Regions from separate parts of the Homo sapiens genome. Here region 2 is linked to region 1. The links come from fine-mapping of genetic effects on gene expression. A gene starts in region 1. The other region holds a variant in brackets. All regions are shown on one strand. Distances are between the middles of the regions. Region 1 holds the start of ICA1 (islet cell autoantigen 1). Region 2 overlaps ICA1 (islet cell autoantigen 1).

Evidence for each region. PIP is the estimated chance that this variant, and not a neighbour inherited with it, causes the effect.
Region 2: its variant is the best candidate, but not a certain one, in a credible set for the expression of ICA1 in whole blood (INTERVAL, PIP 0.60).

Annotation. Positions count from the first base shown.
Region 1 is chr7:8,260,920-8,263,419 of GRCh38, reverse strand. It overlaps ICA1 (islet cell autoantigen 1), which reads left to right and starts at 1,253. Exons shown (of 14, transcript NM_001136020.3): 1 at 1,253-1,326. It overlaps ICA1-AS1 (ICA1 antisense RNA 1), which reads right to left and starts at 1,195. Exons shown (of 6, transcript NR_125740.1): 1 at 1,001-1,195; 2 at 594-840.
Region 2 is chr7:8,236,407-8,238,906 of GRCh38, reverse strand. The region is part of intron 1 of ICA1 (islet cell autoantigen 1); the gene reads left to right. Among named protein-coding and RNA genes, the nearest start is that of ICA1, 25 kb to the left of the region's middle. The variant G/A (reference allele first, on the strand shown) is at 1,005.

The sequences.
Region 1 (2,500 bases):
AAATGTCAACATATTCTATACTTTTTCTCCATCCATTCTGGCAAGACACCATGCTATCTTGAGATTAAGCTAAGTCTCCTGGTTCAGATTCAAATCCCTGCTCAATAATCTCTTTATGGCACTCTGGGCAGTGTCTTCATCTGTGAAATCGGGATAATGATTTTATCTACAGTATTGGGTTGCTGTAAGGATTAAATATAAAGCATACAGCATGTGCCGGACATAGAGCTAGCACTCCATCCATGTTAGCGCAGGATTTCTGATTCGTCAGCATCATTACTCAATAACTATCATTCGGCCCTTTTAAATTGTTTCAGCGACGACTGAATGAACTTATTTATAAATGTATAACATAACTAGGGATGAAGTCATACTACATTGAGGTTTCATTTCCACATAGATAATATTAGGAAGCAGCTATGCCAACACTTTTTCTTCCTGTGATCTGTATACTGCAGGGTCTCTAGAAACAATGGTTTGGTTCTTTCCTGGTGACAAAGGATAAGAGAAGATGAAACTGCTACAAATGGCAATAACTTAAAAATAAAAGATACAGAAATATATGGAAATGAAAAACATATACCTATACATACACAGCTGTTTTTAAAACATGACCTTTATTCTCGAAGCTCAAACTTGATTTCCAGGTACAGCAGGCCTCTGTAACTTTTCTTGGCAGTGAAGTCATGAAGTCTCCTGTCCTCTAAAGCTACAGAAATTTAACCTGGAAGCAAGCAGTAGGCACTACGCACAGCACAGAGGGAACCCTGGGGTGTACGCTGTGGCTCCCACCTGTCCGCCAGGTCATTGTGACGCAAACGCTATGGCCACGTGGAACACCTGCCGGAGAGCAGGGGCGGGGTCACTCTGGGCGGCGGATCCGAGCGGGGGATACCCCAGGAGATGGGGGTCGAGGAGAGACCCCGGGGAGTAGAGAGAGAGAAACTCACTCCCCGAGTCCCCGACCCTCCCCAAGCAAGGTGAGGTCAACGCCACCCACCTTCCCCCGGTCACCCTGGGAGGGGTCGCTCCGGCGGGCGTCTGCTGGAGGGTAGAAGCGGGGAAGGGAGGCAGCGGCGGCGCCCAGGCGGCGGTAGGTAGCCGGGCGGCGAGGGCGCCCGCACCCCCCGGCCGCTGCGCTGCGCTGCGGTGCGCACGGGCTCCGCCGGTTGCTATTCCGGCTGGTGGCGGCCGCCGCAGGAAGGGCCGGTTCCTGCGCTCCCCCCGCCCCTTTCCCTCGCCTTCGGCTGACGCTGACGTCGGATGAGTGATCCGGAGGGACGCTCCGACCGCGGCCGGGAGGCTCCTGGGGGCCGGGGCTCCGAGGTACCTGCCCTCCGGGGTCGGGGCGGGGGCGCGCCGGGCGGGCTGCAGGAAGCAGCAGGAGACGCCCGGCAGCCGGGACGGTCGGGGACGCCTGGTAGGAGCTGCCTTCTCTGCCCTCCGCGGGCGGCGCGTGATAGGCGAGTCGCCTCCTCGGGTCCCGGATCCCGGTGCGGGAACCGCATCAGCCCCTTCCCCTCCCCTCCTCCCTCCGGCCTGGGAAGGTCTGGAGGATGCGCGCGCCGTGAGAGCGTGCGTCAGCCCCGGGGGAGCGGTAGGGAAGCGTTCCGCGCTCCGGCCCCAGCGCTGGGAGCACCGGCACCCATGCCAGCCCACCCCACCCACCCACCGCGCGCCTCGCCTTCCCGGCGGCTCCGGCCCCAGGACCCCGAGCTCCCTGGTGGGCAGGGACTTGCGTCCAGGGTTGACTTGTTGACAAGTTCACCTGCCGCGGCGCCTGGTGTGTGCTTTTTCTCTTCCCCTCCGTGGCCCTTTTTTTGGCAGGGGCGGCAGAGAGCATATGGGTACCTCTTTATAACCACTAGTGCCAGGAGGCCTGAGCTTGGTCCCCCGGGGGCGAGGTGCTCAGCAGTCTCGGACTAGACGGGGCGAGAACCCCTAAGCAACCCCGGTTCCAGCAAACCCTGGCGCGCCCGTTTCCTTTGGGCGCTGCTGACTCCGCCTTTCCTGCTCCGGGGCTATTGCAGCTCCTGCTTCCTCTAGAAACGAACATATCCTGTTGTTATGTCTGCCTTTCCCCCAAAGCGGCTCTCCAGGAACCTTTCCCACTGTCTTTTTACTTGTAGTACCCCCAAAGCACCTGAGCTTCTCTTTGGGGTCTTAAAAGTATCGCGCCCTTATTCTGGCGAAGGGCATTAACTGCCTGGTTGGGGAGAGTTAGTTTGGAAAGAATCGCGTTCTCTTCATTTAGATGGCATTAAAAAATTAGCGCAAGAAAGGGTTTTGTTCATGAATCTTAGTAACCGAGATCTGGTAACGGTATAAAAATTATCAAGGCCTGGAAAATATGTCACCAGCTTGCTTGGGAGTGATACTGAATGTAGGAAGAAAGACACATAAGGCATTTATTGGCCATTAAGGTCCTATAAAATATGACTCATCGCAAACATGTTTTTGTCCATACGTTTCAGTGAAGTCTCTTCGGAAAATCTCAAAT
Region 2 (2,500 bases), 25 kb after region 1:
AGATGCTATTTCACTAGGAAAGGAGTGGGGTCTAGGATTCTGTATATTAGTATCCCCGGAAGATTTCAATGCAAGTGGCTGTTAAACAATACCTTGAGGAACACTGCCGTATGGTATCATGATCTGGGAATAGCCTGGAAATCTAGGTAGAAGGGGCAATTTGCTCAGCAATTTTTGTTAACTATAACTATAAATAACACATACTATAAGAACTTACACTATGAAGGATTTAAATTAAAAGGCATTTTAATAAGCAAAAATTAATTAAAAAGTCATAGTAAAGGAAATAGTCAACAGAGTGAAAAGCTAACCTACAGAATATGAGAAAATATTTGCAAACCATATATTGGATAAGGGATCAATATCTGGAATATATAGAGAACTCCTGCAATAACTCCTGCAAATTAAGTTGGGTCAATAACAAAATGACCCAATTTAAAAATGGGCAAAAGACCTGCATAGACATTTCTCCAAAGAAAATATACAAATGGCAAAAAAATATGAAAAGATGCACAACATCACTAATCAGAGAACTGTAAACCAAAACCATGAGATATCACCTCACAATGCTTCGGATGGCTATTATTTTTAAAAATGGAAACAAACATTAACAAGGATGTGGAGAAAGTGGGACCCTTGCATACCATCAGTGGGCTTGAAATGGTGCAGCTGCTGTGGAAAACAATAGGCAGTTTCCTCAAAAAATTAAGTAGAGAACTGTATAATCCAGCAGTCCAAATTCTGTGTATTTGTGCAAAAGAATTGAATACAGGATCTCAGAGAGATACATTAAGACCTCATTTAATGTCATTGATAGTTCTTGGAAACTGCAACTTTAGGCAAAACGACATAAGCCATTTTTTTCTTATCAATATTATTATGAAACAGTGTTATTCTGGACCTGTGTATATCACTTTGCCTATAGTTGCAGCTTCCAAGAACCTGTCAATGAATTTGACACTGTATACTGTGTTTATTGCAGCATTATTCCCAATAGCCAAGAT[G/A]TGAAAGCAACCTAAATATCCATTGACACATGAATGGTTAAAGAAAATGGTGTGTGTGTGTGTGTGTGTGTGTGTGTGTGTGTCTGTCTTCAACATTGCATATACAATGCAATATCATTCAGCCTTAAAAAGGAAGTCCTGTCATATACTACAACACAGATGAACCTTAAATGCATTATGCTAAGTGAAATAAGCCAATCACAAGAACACAAATACTGAGTGTTTGCATTTTTATGAGGTATCTAAAGTAGTCAAATTCATAGAATCAGAAACTAGAATAGTGGTTGCTGGGGGCTGTGGGAGGGGAAAATGGGGAGTTGTTCAATGGGTGTAGAATTTCCATCATGCAAGATGAAAAAGTTCTAGAGATCTGTTGTACAACAAAGTGTATATTGTTAGCACTACTATACTGTACACTTTTAAATTAAAAGAATAAACTTTTTTACCATAATAAAAATATTAATCAAAAAGTACCAACTATCCTAATAGTTCATGGTGACATTGAACTCAAGAGAAGAATATGATAATTCCATTTCCTTTGAACACCCTCTTTTTATGAAAAAATTTGTTGGAAATTTCAAGCTAACTAAAGTAAATGTGTACTTACAGTGAAGCTGTCTGGGTGGTGAGAGGACTGGGTGTTGGTAGCCTCTCCATGATGCACTGAGTGGAGGGCAGAGCTTACTTACTTACCCTGAATGTCATTCCCAAAAGCAGCTCGTCCAGATATTTGGATGCTCTCCACAAGGAAGAGAGATGTTCACTGCAGGATGCTGTCATATCAGAGGCATCTGACACTCTGGAAATTCTCTTCTTCCTCTCTCTTGTCTGCATACCTGAAGCGTGGGATTTGCACATCGTAATTTTGTCCCCTTGAAATGTTTTTAAATAGCCTAGGAAAGCTTTAATCACTTTAGGAGTACTGGTTGCCAGGATCCTTTCTGAGACCAAAGGAGAATGATTGGATTGATTTTGTGAAGCAGTCTGGGCATTCATATGCTGTGAGCACTCACTCTGGCAGCTAGAGGTTTTGCCTCTGGCCAGTGACCATTCCTTTGAGTAGTGAGCTTTCTGTTCTTTCCAGTAACTGCTGGCAAGTGGGCTAATGTGGCTGGGCTGGTGGGCCCTGGGGTGGGCTAGCTTCCATGAGTGGAGCAAATGGAGTAAGGGCAGAGACATTGACTCCAGTATTTACTAACGAGATAAATATACAAGGCTAGGCTGGTAGATACCTATTTTCCACCTTTGTGCCCTTCTTGCTATCTTATTCAAGCATATCAACCCTTTTTTGGTTTTTATTTGGGGTTTTAAAATTTTGTTCTATTTTTGTTTCTATTTTTGCAATGTGCTGGTTTGTTTCTTTAAAAATGTTGATTATAAAATATTTCAAATCTGTAAGGAGGCATACAGATGCAATATATTCACCACCTAGCTTCACAAAGAGAACACTATGTGTGCACTTGAAGCTGCTGTATATCTCTCTCACATCACATCCC